Linked DNA regions of Homo sapiens. The protein of the gene in region 2 binds, or shares a complex with, the protein of the main gene of each other region. Links are inferred from orthologs where the notes say so. Each region holds a gene or a part of one and is shown on either strand. Other genes may lie near its edges. The genes, in order: PSTPIP1, PTPN22 and CSK.

Region 1 (7,613 bases), on a different chromosome or scaffold from region 2:
ATTGAAAGATGGTCCAGGAAGCAGTATCAGAAATTGAGAGAGGCATAATGGGAGTTGAAGTTTTGAAGAGTAGGCTGGGACCAAATTATGCAGGGTCTGTAGGCCATGTAAGGGCAATGGCCATTGTCCTGAGAGTAATGGAAAATCATGGCAAGGTGACAGTGGGACGTTGATATGACCAAATGTGGATCTGAAAATGTCACTCTGCTGTGTAGAGAGCAGACAGGAGTGAGCAGGGTTGGTTTCATAGATGTACAACTCGTGTAAGCAAATTGTACTTGGGGTCTAATGCTCTGAGATTGCTGTCTTGGAATTCTTAATCACATTATTTTTGAATTTGCTTTTCTTAAGTACAGTCTGGTGGGACAATGAAGCATACATCAAGGACTTGGAGCCTTGGCTCCTGTGGTCCTGCTTCCAACTGCCTCCCCTGGACTTGTTCTCAGTCTTCTCCACTTCTGCCTAGCAACCACTGCCACACTCTGCCCCCAGCAGAGACCTGAGTGCAGGCATGGGGACAGTCCGGGTCAAGGGCACACCTGGTAGCATCTGAGGATTGGCCATGGCAATGTGGCCCCTGCCCCAGGCTGGCAACACCATGGCAAATTCAACAGGCGACTCAGGGGGCTGAGCCTCTCACTCACTTCTGACCCTGGTTCCTAGTGCATCCTGGCCTGGATTTTGCAACACCCCTGGGGACTGCCTGTCCGCTGTGGGTTGGTGAGGCAGGTCCATGGGAAATGGCAATGCCTGGCTTGACTTCCCCAACCTCCGCTGGGGAACGCAGAATGCAGATCAGCGTGGTGGCTGACAGGAGGAGAAGTCCAGCAACTGGTGAATTTCACACAGAACTGAGTCAAGTCAGAGGGTGGGGCGGGGCAAGTTGTCCCACAGATATTCCCATGCCCAAGGGAGTGTAACGTTAAATAACAAATCAAAAACACCATTCCAGGTTGAGAGAGAGACTGCAGTAAAGAAACAAGTTTTATAGATTAGTACCTTTAACGGCAATTTTGTCCCTGCTTTTTGAGTAAGAGGTCTCACATTTTTATTTTGCACTGGACTCGCAAATTATGTAGCTGTCCAGGCAGTGAGCAATCAGTGAGATCAAGCTTGTGAAAGTGATGGAGGTCCTGTAAATATTGATCCTCCTTCTGTGGCAGCTGTTGTTACTGGTTTTGTTGTTTCTGTGGCTCAGAGGGATGGATGAAGTGTCTTCAGGAGCGGAGTCCTGCCAGTCAGTGGTGGGGGCTGTGACAATAAATGTTATAAAAACTGATTTTGCATTTTATTCTCAATCCTTGTAGCTACTGCTTCTTGAATTCTTCAAGCAGATGTGTTCAGATACCAGGCAAAACAGGCAGGGGCTCTGCCTGGGAGGGGTATGCCCCCACAGCCTGGCCTGAGGCACAACTGCACAGACCTCAAGGCAAATTGTTTTGAAGCAGCTGGAACAGTCACTAAAAAGCGGTGATTTTCAGGGATGGATTCCTCTCCCCAAGGGCCTGGGCCTGGGTGTGGGTGGGGCTGGTGTGAATAGGGGCCCCCTAAGACAGTACTCTTTTCTGAGGGGCACTCAGACATCTCAGTCTTGCTCCTCCATCTCCCTGACATCCCACCAATCCACTCAAGCCCCATCGCACCTGCCCCAACCAGACCTCATTCCTGTAAAAGTCATCACAATATCTTCTTCTGGTCTCACCCGCTCTGAGCCACTCCTTATGGAGAAAGAACTCCCTAGAACCTGTCTGTCAGTCTCTAGGCCCCTCAGAGCAAAAACCAAGTCTGCCTCCCCTTGAGGCCCCGGTCCCAGCAGGACCCTGCAGGAGTTGGTGCTCAGCAGTGCTTGTGTGCCTGGGCTGAGGAGAAGGTTGTGGTGGTCACGTGGTTGGCTTTCGGCATCCCCGGCTGCCCATTCGCAAGGCCAACCATGGGGAAGTATGAGCACGTGACCCACCTAGGGCCAAGGAGACACAAGGGAAGGTCTCCTGGGGAGCTGGGCAGAAGGGAGGGTGCAGGGGCTTTGGAGAAAATGAGACACAAGGGCAGGTGTCCTTTTCTTTCTCTGCTTGTGGCTGTGTCTGGAGTTGTAGATGAGCTGCTGCAGCTCCTTGGCCTCCAGCCCAAGGAGGAAGATCGTAAATGCAAGAGAAACTCAGAGAGACTGAGCTGAAGCCCTCATGTACCACAGCTGGAGGCTGCCCTGCCTCCAGCCCCGTTGTGTAGATGACAGCACACGTCCTCTGTGTCAGACCCTCTGGTTTATGTTCTTTGCAGCCAAAAGCATCCTCAACTGATGCGAATAACACAGTGATGCAGAATAGCATGTGCTAAAGGCTGGCCTCTCATTCCTATGGCACCATCAGCCCCGGTGGCTTCCCTAGATTGTTTTTCCTTTTATTGACTTGGGTGAGAGGGTCTCGAGGTAGAACTGGAGAAAGGAACAATGAAACGCTTTTTGAATAGAGGGCTGTTAGTAAAAGACAACTGTGGAAGTTAAGAGCGTGTGCTTTGGCTTCGGACAGATCTAGGACCAAAGCCCAGCCTTCTGCTTATTGCCTGCTACTTGGGTGCGTTACTTACACTCTTTAATCACTAGTTTGCCCCTCTGTAAAGTGGGGATAATGACAGTGTAACTGAGGTGGTCCGTGTGAAAAGCAGAATGATGTACCCGGTGCTGGGTAAGTACTCCAAAGCCGAATTGGCTGTCTGGTCGCCCAGCCTGGGGACCTGCAACAGGTAAGGGTGGAAGGGAGGGGAGGAGGAAGGCCTCTCTAGTAGAGAATTGCAGAGTCTCTCCAGAGGTTCCTCACATTACTTCCTTCCCCAGTTGCTCCAGCCCGTCACCAGCATGGCCCTCCATCCGGGGCTGCCCTGGCTGGACAGGTACAGTTGGGAAAGGAAGGCCTCATGTGTGGGAGCCTTGAGGTTGGCTTTGAGGGTGGGAGGATTTGCCCAGGTAAGGAAGATCAAGGAAGGCTTGCCAGAAGGGAGGCTGGGAACAGAGCAGGTGGGAGTGGGAAAGGTGCCTCCAGGGAGAGGGAAGAGGCCTGGCTGGAGCAGAAGTCTCTGGGAGGTGATGGGAAGGACACCTAGAGAGGCAGGGCAGGGAGCCCAGCTGTAAAAATTTCTGCCAATAAGCAGGCAGGAGCCTTCTGTTAACAGAGGGTCTCTAGTCTGCTCCAGACCTAGAGGCATCATCCCATCTGATGGATGGAGAAACTGAGCTCAGGGAGGCTGAGCCAGTGCTATCAGAGGTGGTGGTGCCATTGGGAGGTGAGGTGCAGCCTGGCTCACTCTATGGCCTACAAAGTTCAAGGGGATTTTTACACTATTAATTGTCTTCAGCTGCAAGTAACAAAAAACCTGACTGGGGCGCCTTACAGATTAAAGATTAGCTCAAATCCAAGGTTTCTGGAGGTGAGGGCCTTCTGGGGGCAGTCCCATTGCTCTGCAATCCTCCCCAAAGTGTTTCCTCTTGGGTGGCTATTTCAGAGCCTGGGTGTGCCCCCTCTCTCTAAACCCTGGGCATGCATAATGGGCACTTGGGAGCTCAACTATTTCATCTGCAGCAGCTCTCATCTTATCACCCCGTCAGCTGTAAGGCAGACATCAGTGAGGGTGGTGATTTGCGGACAATCCCTGACTCACCCCATTTTGCCAGCCTGCCCTGGGCTCAGGACTTCCTGCTGCATCTTCTGCTGAGCCGGCAGGGCGTGGCGTCTCAGGGCTGGGGCTGGGGCTCTAGTCCAGGGCTCTTCCTAAGGTGGTACCACACAGTGCCCCCAGCACCTGCCCACCAAACTGGAAATTCCAGAAATATTCTCGACACCGTCTACTTTCCAAAGACTGGGTGTGGCAGATGAGGAAGCTGAGGCTCAGCGAGTTGGGGGGTCTATTAAGGTCCCTCAGCCCCTGAAAGGTGGGGTCAAAATTAAACAAAAACTGGGCCTCAGACTGGGTTTCCAAACACCCCACTCTGTGCCTTGATAATCCTGTTTCTCTCTCCATCCATTCCCATTCACTGAGCCGGAAGCCTCCATCTTCAGAAGGGGGTTCTCTGCCCCAAACAGCGTCTAATCTGGAGACTTGCGGTGGTGGCGGTGGTGGTGGTGGGGGCAGTGCCGGGGCCTCAGGCTGTTCTCCCTCATCTTGCTGCCTGCTCACCTTGCCTCTGTGTGCTCACAGCCCCCCAGAGCACAGCTGTGTCTGCTCCCAGACTATGGGCTCCTTGAGGGCAGGACCTGGTTTGGGTCCCAGAGCAGCCAGGGTTTGATGAATGACAGATGCCCTAGACCTGGGTAAGCCCCTCCAGAATGACTTGCTAGTGCGGGGTGGGGAGTCTGGCATCTCTGGGCCCAGCCTGGAAGGGTGCTGGACTGGCTGGCGGGTGACACACCTGGGGTTCCTGGGCCCCTCCTGGCCACACTGTCAGTGGGCCTCAAGCTCCCTTAGCATATGGCCTCTGGAATAAAGTGAGCCCGCACCTCGGGAGGGGGCAAGCAGAGGCAGGAGCAGGATGGCAGGTGGCAGGCGGGGCTGCACAGGGGAGCACAGCAACTCCACTTCCTGTGGGCGAGGGCCCTGTGCCTGCCCCGGGGGAGGTTGCACAAACCTTCCTGCGCAGGCCTCGGGCTGCCTGCCTGCCTGCCTGCCTGGCCCGGCCCGAGCTCCAGCCTGCCTCTTCCACTGGCCACTGCCTCCCACCCAGGGCTGGCATCCCTGCTCCCTGCCCTGGGTCCCAGACTGTGTCCTCCATCACCGCAGGGTCGGTGAGGGGCTGGGCTGGACACCAGGGCCCGCCCTCCCATCACTGAGCTCCACTCCTTCCTCATTTTGCTGCTGATTCTAGCCCCAAACAAAACAGGTTGAGCTTTTTCCTCCCCTCAGAAGCTCCTCTCTGGCTCGTGGCTGCCTTCTGAGTGTTGCAGACGGCGCCGGCCGGGAAGGGGGGCCTGGGCCAGCCCTGCCAGGACTGGGACGCTGCTGCTGGCGCCTGGCCCTCCATCAGGCCAGCCTGTGGCAGGAGAGTGAGCTTTGCCGCGGCAGACGCCTGAGGATGATGCCCCAGCTGCAGTTCAAAGATGCCTTTTGGGTGAGTGAGGATGGTTGGGGGCACTGAACAAGTGGAGGGGGCAGAGCTAGGCTGAAATCTCCATGCAGGTGATGGGATGCGGCTCCGAGAGGGGAGCTTTCTCATAAAATAGTGGTTGATTCTTGGTCTTAATTGTCATGGAGGTGGCCCAGGCCCCCACCCCTTCTGGACTGGAACGCAAGTGGACTCCGTGAATGAGCGTCCTCCTCTCTGCTGCCCCGTGTGTTTTCTCCTCTGGGAGACCTCTCCCCACAGCAGGAGCTCCTCAGAAGAGGGTAACACATGGGTGGGGGCTTGAGGAGGATGTGTGGGGCAGCAAAGGAGGGGTCACAGATTTAGAGACCAGACAAACTTGAGTTCAGGTCTTGGCTCTGTTACAGGCTGGGCAAGTCATTTCTGTCTCCAAGCCTCAGTCTCTCCATCTATATAATGGTGATAAAATAGAAATCAACACACCAACTAAAGCATTGGATCAGCAAGGGGATCCAAGGCACTAAAGCCCCCAGCACCTTGCCTCACTCCAAATGGTAATTCTGTTCCCCTCACCCAGCCCCTTGTCCCTTGCAGACCTTAGGGGTCCTTCAAGGAGGCAGCCAGGTGGGCAATGGCTTGCTTACTTTCTTAAATTCAACACGGGCTTAAATCAAGTCATTTCCCCCATGAAATAAGGGCGCCCAGCCAGTGGTAGAGGTAAAGTGGCTTGGCCCGGGCCACGTAGCCTGCAGCCCAGCTTGGACCCCTGGTCATCTCAGCACTTTTCCAGCTGTCCTTCAACTACCCCTCTGCCCCTCAGCTCTGGCTGTGCCCAGGGCTCTGGGGAAAAACTGAGACCTCTCTGGTTGGAGCTGGGGAATGTGGCTGTCCCGGGGTGCTGCCTCCAACCCCGAAGAGGACGCTCTGGCCCTCGGCTCAGCCGGCTGAGCCCCAGCCAACAGCCCTGCCCTCCCCGGGCCTTTTCCTGGGGCTGCAGCCAGGAGGATGAGAGCTATGGAGCCAGGCCTTCCTTCCCTTCCGGCCGGCTCCACTTGGGGCCTGTGGCCAGCGTGTGAGTGTTCTGCTTCCTCTGCTCTGACTGTACAGTAGGCAAAGGACCCCACGTGGGGAGGGCACCTTGTGCCTTTCTGGGCCTCAGTTTCCCCATCTCTACAAAGACAGGGTGGGCCCAGCCCAGAGAAGCCAATGGAGGCAGAGCTGCCTCAGCCCATCCGGAGGACCAGGCACCAGGATGCTCAGGGCCCAGGCTGGCAGCTGGAGCCCTGGGGGATGGGGGATGTGAGTCACCACCTAGCTGCCCTGCCTTGGTGTGCAAAGTTGGGGGAAGGGGTAGGGCCTGGAAACCCAGGCCACTCTGTAGCCCAGGGCAGGCCAGGACCCCTTGACTATTTTATCACTGAGACCTCTGTCCAGTCCTAGAGCCCCTGGGCCTGCCTTCCCTAGGGCAGAGCTGGGCAAGGAGCAGCCTCCATGGCAGGATCTGGGCACAGGTAGGGGTGGCGTATAAGGGAGCAGGGTATGGCAGCCGCAGCAGAAGCAAGCAGCCAGCCCCTGTGGAGCTTCCTGAGCGGCATCCTGCCCACACTCTGTGCTCGTCGCACCTCTGGGCTTCCTGGCCTCCAAGTGCCTTGTCTCCTCTGTGTCTGGCTCCCTGAGCCTGGGGCGGGCATATAGTTTCCCTAGGGAAGGCCAGAGCAGGAAGGGGAGAGAAGTAGCCAGTGGGAACCTCTCACACTGAGTCTGGGCCGATGCCCCGAAAGGTCACTGTAGGCATCACCTGCCCCAGGGCTCTGGATTCTAATACCTCTTCCTGATGCTCAGCCCATCCCAGTGCATAACAACTAACATTTGCTGAGCACGAAAGATGTGCCAGGCGCTGTTCTCAAGATGTATGCATATTCACTCATTCAATCCTTCAAACACATGCTACTGTTATCTCTCTTATTCAGATGAGGAAATTGAGGCACGGAGATATTAAGAGACTTGCGCAAGGTCACACTGCTGGGATTAAACCCCTGGCAGGCTGGCTTTAGCACTTGTGTTGTTGCAGGATCCCTCTGTCTATCTGACATATCACTGGATCTTTTGGCTTCGGGGTAAGATAAGAGGTAACCCCTCTTATCTCCCAGAGGGGTAAGAAAATCAGACAAGGTGGCTAGAACAATATTCTGAAGCTTCATTTGTAGACAAATCTGTAAAACAGAAAAGGCACACTACTCTGGCCACAGGTGTTATATTAGGAACAGCCCAGCCAGCTTGGCCCATGTCTGGGCCTTCCCCCACCCCAGCCCAAGGCACTGTCATTAAACCCTTCAGCCTGCCAGCACACTGTTTAGAAATGACTGGTTTTTAGGCGGGGTGCAGTGGTTCACGCCTGTAATCCCAGCACTCTGGGAGGCCAAGGTGGATGGATCACTTGAGGTCAGGAGTTCAAGACCAGCCTGGCCAACATGGTGAAACCCTGTCTCTACTAAAAATACAAAAATTAGCCAGGCGTGATGGCATGCTCCTGTAATCCCAGCTA
Region 2 (7,964 bases):
ACACTTAATCACTACCCAAAAACAAGGTCCTTAAAATCAGGAGCTAGAAAAGCAAGGAAGTGATTAATATAAAAGTCAGGATAGTGATTATCCCTTGGCCAGGGTAGGACAGGACAGGGGCAGATGGGTGTAGGGGACCTGATGGGGCATGGGTCTTCGGGGGTCTGACAGTTTCTTGACTTGGGTAGTGGTTGCACTGCTAATGGTTGCTTTATAATTATACTTAAATGTTTTATGTACTTTTCTAAATGTGTATTATATTGCACAATATTAAGCAGCTAAAAAAAACTATAACAAGTTTTTAAGCAGGGAAAAAATGACCAGATTTGGCTGGGCGTGGTGGCTCATGCCTATAATCCTAGTACTTTGGGAGGCTGAGGCGAGTGGATTACCTGGTTGGACAGACCAGCCTGGCCAACATGGTGGAACCTTGTCTCTACTAAAAATACAAAATTAGCCAGGCGTGGTGGCTCATGCCTGTAATCCCAGCTACTTGGGAGGCTGAGGCAGGAAAATCGCTTGAACCAGGGAGGTGGAGGCTGCAGTGAGCCGAGATGGTGTCATTGCATTCCAGCCTGGGTGACAAGAGCAAAACTTTGTCGCCCCCAAAAAAAAGACCAGATTTGTATGATTAAAAGATCACTTGGGTGTTGAACTGAAAATTGACTGAAGGTGGGGCAAGGCTAGAGGCAGAGAAGCCAGTTAGGAGGTAGCTGCTATATTTTGGTGAGAAATTATAATGACTTTAGCTGAGAAAAGGTAAAATATTAGGGATATAGTCTACATTTTTTTTTTTTTGAGACAGAAGTTCGCTCTTGTTGTCCAGGCTGGAGTGCAACAGCTCTATCTCAGTTCACTGCAACCTCTGCCTCCCGAGTTTAAGCGATTCTCCTGTGTCAACCTCTTGAGTAGCTAGGATTACAGGTGCCTGCCACCACGCCCAGCTAATTTTTGTATTTTTAGTAGAAATGGGGTTTCATTATGTTGGCCAGGATGGTCTCAAACTCCTGACCTCAGGTGATCCACCCGCCTCGGCCTCCCAAAGTGCTGGGTTTACAGGTGTGAGCCACTGCCCCCGGCCAGTCTACATTATTTTAAAAAACACAACCAAAATAAAACAGAGGCCGGCACTGCCCCTCAGCTCACTTTTTACATCTATGCCTTGGGTTACCTTGGCTTAGGAATTATAGTCCAGGGGCAGGGACATGTATACACATGTGCTAGAACTTCCTACTTATCTCCTTTCAGGTAACTCTACCAGAGGGGCTCAGACTGATCAGCCAGTGGCAGTGAGAGCACATTTTTCATAGTACCACAAGATTATCCATGTTGAGCTGACATCGGAGTTCCTATCATAATATCTAATCACTCAATAATATCTAATTACTCAAGACTTTCAGAGTGTTTTCACATCTGCTATCCGGTACCAGAGTGTTAGCTCCAGGAGGCAAAGGTTTTGGTTCTTTTTGTTCACCGCTGTATTTTTAGTGCTTAGAACTGAACTTGGTACATACTAAGTGCTCAATAAATGGTACTCAATAAATGACCACATTTAATGATTGTTATTGATATTTAATCATCACAACAATCCTGTGAGGATAGGTAGGACATGTATTATTATCCCCATTTTATAAGTTAGAAAACAGAGAGATTTAAGAACATGTCAAATACTTCATAATTTGGTGAAAAAAAATCATGATTTAATTTCAGGTTTGTACTTCAGTTCCCCTCTTTCCACCCATTTCTTCACAACTGAAGAGCTAAGGTTTAAAATTCTTATATCTCTGAAACGCCAGCTGTAAGCATTCTAAAATACATGATAGGTACTATTAGACACCCTATGTTATCTGATATCTCAGCTTGTAGGGTGAATGAGGCCTACCCAGCTGCCATTGCATCAATAATCACAGTTCTCTCAAAGGAGATTCACTGTTCTTCTGGGTAATCTAATCCACCCAACCTGAAGCTACCTTGTACTCATGTTTCTCTCCTTGACCTACACTTGTCTCTACTCTCCATCCTAGCCATTCCACTTCTCCAAGCAAAAGAAGTTAAGGAAGCCCTGTTATTGAAAAAACACATGTTATAATATATTTTTCATATGAAAAAGAAAAGAAAAATGATGGCCAGACATAGTGGTTCATGCCTGTAATCCCAGCACTTTGGGAGGCAAGATGGGAGGATTGCTTGAAGCCAGGAGTTCGAGACAAGCCTGGGCAAAAAAGCAAGGCTCGTATCTACAAAAAAGAAAAAAACAATTTTTTTTTAAATTAGCCAGGCATGGCGATACACACCTGTGGCCCCAGCTACTCAGGAGGCTGAGGCAAGAGAATCACTTGAGGCCAGGAGTTCAAGGCTACAGTGAGCTGTGGTTGCACTGCTGCACTCCAGCCTGGGTGACAGAGTAAGATTCTGAATCTTAAAAAAACAAACAACAACAACAAAAAAAACTGTGGCAGTGGGTAGTTTTGGTGCTCTTCAAAAACCTTTGTCAACCAAATAGAATCCCAGAGGGGAGGCTAAAAATGTAATATTGCATGAAAAGTTAACATTGGTCTCTTTCTTCTTAATATTAATTAAAATTAGTAATATAAAGCATAAACCACAACTTAGATACCTGGGGAAATCTGGATGTTCAATTAATATTAGTGTTTTTACATCTGGAGTTGTATATGTCTTCTGTAGGATTCCTAACCAAACTCCAAAGAACTAGCAAACAAAATATTAAAACCAGTAATTTTGAGAGAATACCTGAAATACATGCAAACCACTCAGAGAAGTCAAACTTTTTTTTTTCTGTCTTCCCCGCCAAGGTCTCATATTTACTTTATCCCAAGAGCAATTTGGTCTCGGAAAATTGGACCCCCATAGTCAGTTAAATAGTGTATGTAACTACCCTGAGAGGGTCACATACAGGACTCACCAGAAATTCATTGGCAAACTCCTCTTTAGTAATTTTCTTGCTTTGGGCCTCATCCAGGAACTTCTGCAGAATTTCTCTTTGGTCCATGCTGCAGAGCAAGAAAAATAGTCTATAAGTAGGTTGAGGGAGGGCATGTCAAATGTGTGTCATGGCCGAGACACCTCCAAAAAGCCACTGCTGCCGCCTGAGCAGAGCATGCTGAAGGCTGTGGTTTACTGACTTCATCACAAGCCCTAGAGGAAATTAGTACGTAACCACCTTCTGTGGTCACATAACACAGCCATCATCTCACTCCAGGGCCCTAGTGCCTTCCTTCTCAGCAAAGGAACCTGGTTACAATTCAAATTTTTAACAAACAAGAGGCTAACTAGAACGTAAAGTGTGGTCTGCTTAACTGAGATTATTCCATTCCATCACCCATATGCAAAACTCACCTTTCTTCTTGCCTCCCAGAGAAAGAACAGAATTACAGGTCTCCTGAATGAGTTCTGTCTCTCCCCATTTTCCCAGTGAGCACAAGGGCCAAGTTGACACCTTCTGTTTCCTTATGTCCCAAATGAACTCTGCAAAGTTCAGTTAGGCCCAGGAAAGAAGACAGACACTGTTTAGAGTGAGTGACATGTCTTCTACCCGGACTGTTCATCGAAAGGTTTCTTGTCAGTGTGATCAATGAGAAACTTCTGTTCATCACAGAAGGTATTTTTATTCATAACTTTTAAGTCTGCTATATATACCTCAAACTCCCTTTTGAATGAAGCAAAGTCAGATGCTTCTGACAGTCTGTGTCTCTCCCAGGACTGGGGAAGTGCTGACCTCCATTAAGGGAAGTGTTGATTTCAGCACCTCTTCAACCCTCCCAGTAACCTTTGAAGCTTCACTTGGGTTCTGGATATAAAGACTAAGAGTGTTGGTCTATATAGGATCTAGAGCAAGTGGCCCCCACAAGGAGCACCTGACCAGACAGTTAGCTCAATACCCTGCATATGTAATGCTGGTAAACTGTGATGGAACAAAAAGAAAGTAAAATCAACCACCTTGCTGACAACATTGTAACTTTTAGGGCAGAAAGCCTGAAGAACTGTTTCTAAAGAACACATTTCTACTCTGCAACCAATGTCTTAGGAAATAAATTTGTTTCAGGAAGTTATGCTGTGCCTGTGGCATTTTGGCCCTGAAAGGCAGGCTCTTCTAGAAAAACTTTCCACATTTGAGCTTGCATAACCTCTCAATGGGTACAAGTCTACCCAAGTGCCTAATTCAGTGTGAGAACATCCAAAAATCAGTATATCATCTTTATTGAAGGCAGAAGTTCAACAAATGTTAACAAAATTAGTCTTGATCCTGAAGAAAACTGGGAAATGTGTTGTTAGGACTTCCTCTATTTAAGATATTAGCAATCCTTTCTGTTTTGCAACATTATTCAAACTTCCTTCAGGATATCATGATTCTGAACACTGCTTAATCTGAACATTAAAGATACTGCATGCTCTTTACTAAGTACTGCAAAAAAAAAAGAAAGATCATCGAGATATCTTGGTTATAGACAACTTAAAGACAATATTTCAAATTAAGAAACTCAATCCCAGTATACATAAATTAAAATAAACCCTCATTCTTCAGCAATATTTGTTAGGAATAGTATATTTCTTAAATTATCCCCATCTAGAATTAAGAGAGAATTTCTTGCTGCTCTAAGTAACGTGATGTTTACTTTGGCTATTTTAAAACATAAAATATGGGAAATCTTTGATTTATAAAAATACAAAATTTCAAGTTTGTAATAACTAAAACCATGTAAAAGTGTGTACATAGTTAAAGACTAAAAGAAGCAAAAAAGAATCAATTGTGTAAGTTTGCTTTCTAAAATTATCATAATTTTAGAATTATGATAAAGTTTGCTTTCTAAAATTATCATACCGTTTTTAAAATTAGAAATAAACATTTAAAAATCCATTAAGTTGTTCAACAAATTTATTGAGTACCCACTAAATTCTAAACATTGTCTTAGGAGATTGGCATACAACACTGAGAAAGCCAGAATATGGTAAAAACAAAACAAAACAAAACAAAAACATCCTTAGCCAGTTAATAAAGCAACTCAGAACTAAAGATACAGACATGATTACTGATAAAAATTAAAACACTCCTTAGGTAACTTTGGGAAAGAAAATAAAAATAAAAACATTCCAAACTAACTTGCTTAATTGCAGAGTAGCAAAGCATAATCCTAAAAGGAAAATGATTTTCTATGTTTGGACAAAGAAGATAATATAGTTTTATAATTTCTCTGTACCCTTAGAATGTCCTCAATTACACAAAACTAGAACTTTATTAATTTTTATTAATTGATGAGGCAAACCTGCCTAATAAAATTTAAATCTATTTTTCTCAAGCCTATATTTCAGCACAATCTCTTACTAACTTTCTTGTTTCTTCTTAATGAGGGAGAAGACAGAAATAAATAGGAGATAACAAAAAAAATTTTGCTTAGATGCCTCCATAGTCCCTTTCCTCAAAATCTAAGAATCTGTAAATAGTGTCTTGGCAGAACTTCACACTTTTTTAAAAAAGCAAGCAGCAATCTATTCTACTGTAAACCCAAAAGGTATAGAGACATTGTGAAATAACCAAACCCCCAAAACCCACTTAGCTACAAGGCCATTTCCTGAGCAGACCACTCAAGCAAGCAAAAAACAAACTGAAGAAGAAAACAAAAAACTTTAATTATTTTTTTTGTTTTGGGTTTTTTTGTTTGTTTGTTTGTTTTGTTTTGAGACAGGGTCTTGCTATGTTACCCAGACTAGTCTGGAACTCCTGGGCTCAAGTGATCCTTCCACTTCAGACTTCCAAGTAGCTGGAGCTATTATTTTTTTTTTAAAAAAATAAGCTACTACTTAATTTATCACACTTCCTTCTACAGAGCACAATGCTTTTTGATGAAGATTGTGTTGACTCATTTGTATCTTGCGGGAAGATAAAGAGCTGGGGAGGGGAAACAAGACATGCAGTAAAGGTTGGCAAATACCTAAAAGAGTTTCAGAATTTATGATGAATCATTTAAACCAGTCTGGCATAAAACCTAAGTGAACACAATTCCATGCAATAAAAAAAGACTCACAAACATTTTGCCAGAACCATCAAGTAAATTGTGGGAAGTAAATTGTGGATAAGCACCTGAAGAGGAGTGACAAGGCCACATCTCACTGCTGCCTCATGTGGCTGTAGTGCTTGGTCAGAAGGAAGAACACAACAGAGAAGAGTGCTGGTCACCATGTCACCTGTTCCAAGAAGAGGGGAGTATGCTAGTTTAAGGGGAAATATCAGTATCACAGAGGTCAGGAATTAGATTACAATAAACATTAATTGAGGAGAATTTCAGGGAAGACTACAAGGGTAAGATAAACTATTCAATAGGAAAAACATTCAGGATTCTCAGAACATCCTTCTGTCTTTTAGATGAGGGGGAGACATGTTTTACCCTGGAGAAGATACTTACCCAACCTTAGCTTTAGTTTCACTACTCTTGCCTTTCCCTACATTCCAGGGTCATTGATTTGATATGGGATATATATACTGTCTGTGAAACATTCAGTCCTTTGTAAGCATTCTTTTGATCACCAAGGCCTATTGGAAATTTCTCCTCAATGTCTTTTAGATTCAACCTGTCTTTTCCATTCCCACTTAGCCCCATTCCCACTTTCACACCCGGATTCCTATAGCAATAAACTTAGAGTATCTTCCTATCTATATGTTTCCATTCTAGTATCTCCTGTTAACCAAGGCTGGATGAAAGTTCTTAAAACTGCACTTTAATGCTAAAGAATCAGAATAGTTATTGATGATCTACGGGAACAAGTCCAGATTCCTTAGCTTGTCACCAAGCCCCTCCCTGTCAACTATCCCCACCCAACCTATCCAAGCACATCACCTACAGACCTCGTTCGTTCTACTACCACTTTTTTCTACTTCTCACCTTTACCCCTAAGTTTCACCACAATGAAAATAAAACCATAAAGCTCAATTTTTCTTCAAAAATCTTGCCCCTAACTCTGTTTCGCCATGATCTTCCCTTAGTCTGAATCTCTTCAATATAAATCTGTATATTCAGCTATAGAAGTTTTCATTTATTCAATTTCCTTGTCTCCTATAAGTTTATTTAAGAGTTTATTCAAAAGATGTCCCCTGTATTTTCAGATTTATCAAAGGCAATGATAGTGTATTCTATGCGTTTGTATAACCCACAGTGCTTAACATGGTCTTGAGTATACCTAAAAATAAGTCTGTTGTGATAAAGTAGCTAATGTGGTTACGCTTTGGTGAGGGATCTACTCTCACTTGGTTACTCATTATATCAATTACTCCAAGTCTCTTGTCTGGCACAGTCTGTGCTTCTTGTCTCTAGCTAGGCACTTTCATTATGCCAGGAGCAGATGGGCCTTCCTACATGGAGGCACAGGAACCTGGCAAAGGGTACTTTCCTGAATGCTGCTGCCCAAGCAGCAGGGCTATTATTATGAAAGGAATGGTGTCAATACTGAGCTTCAGAGTCCATCTCTGAAGAACTGCAATGGCCAGAAATAAATGACCTCCTTTATCTCTAGAGTAGGCTTGTTTTTCCTTTTATAAATGAACACAGAAGAGGCTTATAAAATACCTTTAACGAAGCTTGTTTGATTTTCTCATGTTTTCACATCATCCCGGGTAGGAAAAGTCCCCCTACCCATCTTTCAATCTACTGCTTGTCACTACAGCATTCTGAGACTTCACTAAGTCCTTCAGTTCACCTGCTGCAGACTTCATAGTCAACCTCCCACTACACAGGGAAGCATACTCTGCCTTTGGTTTCAAAATCCTCAAGAAGCAAAGGTCAACCAATAACTTGCAATTGAAGTTTTTTTTTTTTTTTTGGAGACAGAGTTTTGCTGTTGTCACCCAGGCTGGTGTGCAATGGTGCTATCTCGGCTCACTGCAACCTCCGCCTCCTGGGTTCAAGCAATTCTTCTGCGTCAGCCTCCTGAGTGGCTGGGATGACAGGCATGTG
Region 3 (7,099 bases), on a different chromosome or scaffold from region 2:
GTTGGGGGCTGGGTGGATAAATTACAAGATGTCCCTGAAAGGGGACAGCATAGCTCTAGCTGTGATGGGGCCAGGGGAGATCTCTAGATGCCGATACTGAACACTCCCCATGATAGAGTATGGAAAATGGCAAAACACCAGCTCAAGTCATTGAAGAAAAAGTTGCCAGGGGAGCAGAACAGACACAGCTTCCAAGTCCCATCCCACAGGCTAATTGGAAACAGGAAGGAGCACCTGCACTACAGGGAGACGTGCGGACAACCCCGGAACCAAGTGATCCAGTGAAGCATCACCAGCAAGGTGACGCATGGACACTAAGTGCCTCCTGGAGGAGGACTCTGCATTGCCCGGGGGGGCGTTCCTGCCAGAGCTGTTCCACCTGACTCCAACCAGGGAGAAGCAATCAGACAAATCCAGAACAACTGGCCCGGACTCTTCATGTCAATGTCATAAAAGAGCAAAACAAAAAAAGGGCTGGAGAATGTTCTAGATTGAACAGGACACTAGAGAAACATGACAAGATTCAATAAATGATCTTGAATTGAATTCTATATCAAGGGGTGGTCGGGGGGACAGCTATAAAAATCACTTGGGGAGAGGGGAAATGGACATAGTAGATAATATGGAATTAATGTCAATTTTCTTAAGTGTGATCATGACATTGTGATTATATAAGAGATACACGCTAAAGTTCTTAGGGTGAAAGATGCAATGCCTACAACTAACACTCAAATCAGCAAAAAATACATACACACATATGTCTATGTAGATAAAAGAAGAGATAGAGTAAATGTGGCAAAATGTTAAGAACTGGCAAATCTGCATGAAGGATATATGAATATTCATTATACTATTACTTCAACTTTTTGGTAGGTTTCAAATACTCAAAATAAAAGGCTGTGAAAAAAAAAGCCAGGTGCAGGTTCTCTATGGAATACTACAAGTTGTGTTTTTAAAGAGGTATTAATGCAACACCTCCCTAAACTCAAATATGCCTCGATTATCTTTGGAAAGACAGAGGAAACTGGTAACAGAGGTTGCCTCTAGGATGAGAAGGGAAAGTGAGATCAAGTTCAAGAGAAACTTACTTTTTACTGTTCATTTGCTATTTTGTCCTTTTGGGCTTTTAAAAAAATTATTATTATTTTTTTAAAGCCACATGCATCTATTACCTTCCCCCTTAAAACTGGAAATAAGAAACTTTTTGTAAATCACCTCTCTCTGGAGAATTCCTTGGGTCCCCAGCTGTGTTGGCTGCCGAGGCCTCCAAGGCCTCTCACACATCCCCGTGCTCCAGTGAGAACCTCACTGGTTGTGGCCTGTGGTTTAGGGTGGACTGGGAGCTCTGCAGGGGGAAAGTGAGGGTCTGACTCACGTCTGCATGGGCTGGGCCCAAAGCGGCTGCTCAGTAAATGAGTGCTGAATGAATGAATGAATGAACGAATGAAAAAAAGGGGACGCCAGGCTGGCTGTACCACACCGAGGTCTCATAACCAATAGGACTATAGTTAACCCCAAAGGGACAGCAGCTGTCACCCCATTCCCGCAGGGCTAGGGGACAAGGGGCTTGGGATGTGGCAGGACCAGTGCTTCACTCTGACTTCCTGCCCTAAACCCGGCTCCCAGCAGCCCTTGTGCTGGGGTCCCGGGAACAGGCTGGCATTGTGCCCAAGCGCTGAGGTCAGTGGCTGCAGCCTCAGGCAGCCTTTCTTGTGAGCCCAGGCTGACAAGGAGTGGGGAGAAAGAACTGGGAGCCCAGAAACTCCCAGGCTGCCCTTTTCCTACCCTGGAAGCAGCTGTAGACCCCCAAGGCCAGGCACGTGCTGAGGGCCAGGGGAGGTCAAGGGGCTCCCTTGCCCTTCCCCCTTGCCAAAACTCTGCTGCCTAATGGGGCGTGGGAGCCTTCAGTAACTGTTTACGCCCAGCTAAAAATACCCACTGAAAAGGGAAGTGCACAAAAGACCTGGGGGAACTCAGGGCCCTGGCCCCCGGAGATTCTGGTGCTGCCACAGGACCTAGCTGGATGCTCTGGGGGATGGGGACAGCCACTGGAGGCAAAACAGGCAACAGCAAGGTCCACCTTGCCTTCTCATTCTTTGAGCCAGTGTTTTAGAAGCCTTCCTGTGTGCCCAGAGCCATGCTTGGTAGGCCAGGATATCCGGGTGGAGAAGGAAAGGACTCAAGAGGTCCTGCCTTTGGGGACCCAAGGTCACCACTCACACACCTCTCCTCTGTGCACAAGCCAGGGCTGGATGCTGGGAACCACCACAAAATGCAGACCCGGCTCCTGTCCTCCTGGTTACTGGATGGTCAGCCATGGCCTGGTATGTTCAGTGCCTCAATAGATTGTGAGACAGGGGCCACCCGGGAAGGCTTCCAGGAAGATGGGTGAGGGGAGCAGGAGCTAGAAGGATTTTAGGGGAAAGTGACTGAGAGAGGGGCGCCTTGAAGTAAACCAGGATTAAGACTGCAAACTGTGGTACAGAGCGAGTTAATGAAGACTGAAGAAGGTTCAGGATGGGGGCCCAGGGAACCTCCGAGCAGGGCCTACAGGTCATAGTACAGATACAGGCAGAATTAAGTTTCAGATTTGGGCCCGCCCCTCCAAAGGGCAGTGCACCTGAGGAGGGCGGGGCACCCACCAGCAGTTGGGCAAGTTTGGCAGCAATAAAATCAGCTCCACCTCTGGTTCTGCAGAGGACACCAGGCTGAGGCACTGTGACATTCCCCACCACACATCAGGCAAGGAAGGGTGCCCGAGGGCTTCCACTGACCCCCGCAGCCTGCGCTGGTGGTCCCTCAGCACCCCCACTGCACAGGTGTCTCAGGGTGAGCAGCAGCAGAATTGGGCGCCAGGGTCTTGGAGATGCCTACACCTCCCGGGGCGGTTACGAAGGAACAGAAGAATGCCTGCTCTGGCTCCAGGGCACGCTGCCCTACCCCCATCCCGGGGCTCCCGTCAGCACCCTGACCTAAGGAGAAGGGCGGATTTAATGGATAAATACCAAATTATAGCAACACACTGGCTTTTTTTCCCCTGCCCCCAATGGTTCAGTGGGACCGGAAATCCCGTCTAGTGGTTTGGGAGAGGTGGGGGCTGGGGTTAGAGCAGGCTAATGGGGAGCCTACTCCCCAGGCACCGCTGCGGCTTGAGGCTGCCATTCCTGGCCCAGAAAGGTTTCTAATTACCGCTCAGGAGCCTAATTACCTATGTGCGCTGGGCAATGGGGACTCTGGGCCTCCCCAGGGCCCTAACCCAGGCCTCTGCTCCCCCACCCCCTTAGCACAGGATGTGGTCTTTGCATCTTCATTTGCCTGCATTTGCATATAGCCTCTCAGCACTAGCCTTCAATGGACCCTTCAAAGTCATGTTCTTGTCCCTCACCCGGAAGTCTCCTGGCCACATTCTAGGTGGGGAGACTGACGGCTGGAGGCCCATAAGCTGTCTAAAACTTCGGCCCCCAGATTTCTGGTCTCCCCACTTCAGAACCAGGATCTGCAGAACACACAGCTCAGAAGGTAAAGCTGTGGGGATCAACACAAAGGACAGACTTGCTACTACTTAAGGGAGATGGGGGTGTTACCAGTACACTCCTCCAGCAGGATGGGCTGCAGAATGAGAACACGGGAATTACAGCTGACTGACCCAACCGGGTTTGGGGCACTGCATTAGTTACTTAATCCTTCAAACACCCCATAGGGCAAGGACTGGTGATCTCTGACAGAGGAGGAACTAGCTGTGTGGGTACTTGAGCTCAGAGTTGTCTGAACCTTGGTTAGGGGACCTTTCTTCCCACCTTTCCTTGTGCAGGACAGACGACACCCTGAAAATGGACAGGTGGGGGGCACCGAGGGGAGGTCTGCCCAGAGCTTGGCTGTTCTGCTCTGGGAAGCAGAGGTACTTCTGTGCCCACTTCTTGCTTGTCTGCATACCCCAGCCTCTCAGAGAGGCCAAGAGCCTGTCGAGGGACACACAGAAAAGAGCCAGCAGCCCTAGAGAGGGCAGAAGCTTCAAACAAGGACCTCTCCTCCTACCACGCTTCTTCTTCAAACACTTCTCAACTTTCACAGGACCTTCCCCTCCAGGAGGCCCTCCAGGCTGCCCCAGCCCACGCAGAGCCCCAGCTTCAGAGCTCCTACCAGCTCTGCCAGGAAGTGAGAACCACAGGCCTCCCCTCACTGACTCCTCGTCTCCTCTACCCGCCAGCAGAGGCGCTCTCAGGGTTTGCTCTTCATCCTTCCCTCCTGTCTCCCTGCAGCACGGACAGCACAAGCTGCAGATAGATAGATGCGCGAGTCTGCATGAGGACCAGGTGTCAGGCTGGGCTGAGAAGCAGCAGCCAGGGTCCAAGGGGGGCAGATGATGCCCAGGTTTTCGCCTGCCCACGAGGCTTACAACCATGCCATGATCAGGACAGCCAGGGGGGCACCAAGCAGCCTCTCTTCTACTTGTTCCTTCGACTCTGGGCCCAGACCACAGAAGGAGGGGTGGAGGGAAGCTGCGGTTGGAGGGTGTGTGCACAGCTAGTGTGTGATGAGAAGCTGACTTCATCTTAGCACCTCAAAACCAGGAAGAGAAACTGAGCAGGCAGAAAGGGCAGGCTGGGCTGCACAGGGCCCTCCAGTCCCTGGGGGCCTGCTGAGGGGAGCTCTCAAATAGTCGCTTGACAAACCACTTCTCCTTTCTGGGCCTCAGTTTCCCCATGGGAAAAATGGGATTTTTTTTCTAATGGGTCCTGCCAGTCTGCCCTGAGTGGTGCCGTCTACACTTAATGGGCCACATCATGGCAGATAAAAGAGCACCCCCCCAACTGGTGGAGTACTTCTGATCCCGAGGAGCAGGGGCTCAGCCACCCAAAGCCAGCCTCTCCCTGCTCACTTCTCCCCTCAGCCATGCAGGGAGCACCAGCTCTTCCTTCACCAGCTCTTTATTTTTAGGTCTGAATTTGACTTTAATCATTACTTAGCGGATTCTATTTCCAGCCCTTGGATGAAGGGACCCAGAGGAGAGGGGGAAGGGAGGCAGTGCTCCCTGCCGGGCGTTGGGGGTGGCCTGCTCCTCCACCCATCCTGTCCCCAACCAAGGGCGGGGGAAACTGAGAAACACCCAAAGGGCTCTCATCTGAGCCAGGCCAGGCCAGCATCTTGGGGCGGACCCCACCCTGTGACCTCATCCCATCCCAAGCTGTGGGACAGGAGGGCAGTTGTCATGCCCACTTCCCTTACACTAAGACCAGGGAGGAGGAGATACTCCACAGGCCAAAGTTTGGCAGCTGGAGTCTGAAGTCGTGTGCCCAAGGGACCTCTGCACTGAATGGGCCACCTGGGGGAGGACCCCTTCCTTAGGTTAGTCCTGGGCCACCCTAGGGTCATCTGGGGCTACAGTCTCTTAGGCCCAGGGTTGCCAGGAGGAGACTGGTGTCCTGCTACTGCCCACGGGGTGGCTGTAGGAGGGCACTCCCAGTTACCCTGGTCTCCACAAAAGTAGAACAAGAGGAAGCAGGTGTGTCACAGTGATACACACTCAGGTTAGACCTGGGGAACACCTGCTGAGGAGGGGGAGGCTAACATGAGTTTCCCGATGTGTCCAACTCCCTCCTGGGAAGCTCTGGGAGGCTCCAGAATCCCCCTACCCTTAATCTCCCAGCTTCTTTCCCTTCCTTGGCTACTGGAACAGGGTGCGAAGATGAGGCTGGCATGGCTGTTCTTGGGCTGGGGCTCAGGATGCCTGGGTTCCTTGTCTAAGTCTCAGGCTAAGCAGGCCTCTATTTCCTCTGGGAAAATGCCAAGCTGGGCTGACCTAGCCAGAGCTGGGAGGCAGGAGGCAGCCAGGCTCTTACAGAAGAGGCGCAGTGGCTCACGCCTATAATCCCAGCACTTCAGGAGGCCGAGGTGGGTGGATCACCTGAGGTCAGGAGTTTGAGACCAGCCTGACCAACACGGAGAAACCCCATCGCTACTAAAAATACAAAATTAGCCAGGCGTGATGGCACATGCCTCTAATCCCAACTTGGAAGGCTGAGGCAGGAGAATCGCTTAAACCGGGAGCCGGAGGTTGTGGTGAGCCAAGATCGCGCCATTGCACTCCAGACTGGGCAACAAGAGCAAAACTCCATCTCACACACACACACACACACACACACACACAAAAAAAAAAAAGAGAGAGAGAGAGAGAGAAGAGGCCTTGTCTATTTAGCTCTGATGCTGGGAGACCGGAAGGGGAATGGGTGGAGTCAGGTCCCGGACCCTAACCAGCAGCCCATCTTCCCAGGGCCAGCCCCATGTCCTAGGCCAGCCAATCATATGGTAATGGGGAGAAGGGAAGGCAGGCAAGGGCACTGGCCATAGTATTCTAGAACCTCAGGGCCAGGGGGTTTCACAGGGGCTCCTCAGGCGGAGACCACCTCTTTGCCAGGTGAGTGGTCAGTCAACATTGGCCCGTGGCTCAGGCACCTTCCCCACAGGTTGAGGCAGCCAGCAGTGGGCACTCCTTCAACAATGCCAATCCTACTCACAGAGGGAGTGAAGAAAGGGCTGTGCCAGGCACTTTAGAGTCCCTTGGTTAGTTAGTTGACACTGTCCTTACACCTTCCTCTGAAGTAGGTGTTACCATCCTGTTATTTATATCAACGAGGCTCAGCAGGTCAGTGACCTGTCTAAGGTCCCTCTACCCTGGGCCTAAGTGGCATGTCTGGGCCTGGAACCCACATTCAGTTGGGTGCCAAGTTGCTTGTGCCCTCCAACACCCTGGCTGCTTTTGGGACTCATAGTAACGACAACCACAACAGCAACAGAGGGGAAAAATGCACACGCTCCAGTGTATGGGTGATGGCGCTGCAGCAGGCCAGCCTAGAATGTTCTGTAGCTTTTTAGAAGCAACGTTACTTAGACCGCGTAGCACCATGAGAAAATGCCCACAGACGCAGTATTAAATGAAAAAAGGTGTCACGGCACACACACTCCAGTGACAACGACAATGAAGGAAAAGGATGGGGAAAAGACTGGCAGTGAACTCCAAAATGCTAACACAGTCACTGCCTGCTGAAGAAATAGTGGGTGATTTTTGTTTCATTTTCTAAATTTCCTGTAGCGCTGTTTT

What was found.
Region 1: the proteins of PTPN22 (region 2) and PSTPIP1 are in contact, whole or in part, in a crystal structure (PDB 7AAM), measured with the Homo sapiens proteins. Residues at the interface, in NP_057051.4 of Homo sapiens: Ser793, Lys794, Pro795, Gly797, Pro798, Arg799, Asn800, Pro801, Pro802, Trp805, Asn806; in NP_003969.2 of Homo sapiens: Thr225, Arg228, Asn229, Trp232, Asn236, Ser239, Met240, Cys242, Val243, Asp246.
Region 3: the proteins of PTPN22 (region 2) and CSK are in contact, whole or in part, in an NMR structure (PDB 1JEG), measured with the Mus musculus proteins. The link is inferred for Homo sapiens from one-to-one orthologs. Residues at the interface, in NP_033005.1 of Mus musculus: Pro614, Pro615, Leu616, Pro617, Glu618, Arg619, Thr620, Glu622, Ser623, Phe624, Ile625, Val626, Val627; in NP_001291690.1 of Mus musculus: Phe20, Thr23, Gln26, Ala40, Val41, Thr42, Lys43, Asp44, Asn46, Trp47, Ile59, Pro61, Asn63, Tyr64.

What each region holds. Positions count from the first base shown.
Region 1 is NC_000015.10:76,990,515-76,998,127, forward strand, and holds the start of PSTPIP1 (proline-serine-threonine phosphatase-interacting protein 1), read left to right. Parts: upstream 1-4,611; 5' UTR 4,612-4,890; coding exon of another isoform or gene 4,891-5,059; coding exon 5,060-5,095; intron 5,096-7,613. UniProt on the Homo sapiens protein: Involved in regulation of the actin cytoskeleton. May regulate WAS actin-bundling activity. Bridges the interaction between ABL1 and PTPN18 leading to ABL1 dephosphorylation.
Region 2 is NC_000001.11:113,868,614-113,876,577, forward strand, and holds the start of PTPN22 (tyrosine-protein phosphatase non-receptor type 22), read right to left. Parts: upstream 3,100-7,964; 5' UTR 3,011-3,099; coding exon 2,924-3,010; intron 1-2,923. UniProt on the Homo sapiens protein: Acts as a negative regulator of T-cell receptor (TCR) signaling by direct dephosphorylation of the Src family kinases LCK and FYN, ITAMs of the TCRz/CD3 complex, as well as ZAP70, VAV, VCP and other key signaling molecules.
Region 3 is NC_000015.10:74,785,063-74,792,161, reverse strand, and holds part of CSK (tyrosine-protein kinase CSK), read right to left. Parts: intron 3,619-7,099; exon of another isoform or gene 3,585-3,618; intron 3,491-3,584; exon of another isoform or gene 3,405-3,490; intron 1,346-3,404; exon of another isoform or gene 1,216-1,345; intron 1-1,215. UniProt on the Homo sapiens protein: Non-receptor tyrosine-protein kinase that plays an important role in the regulation of cell growth, differentiation, migration and immune response.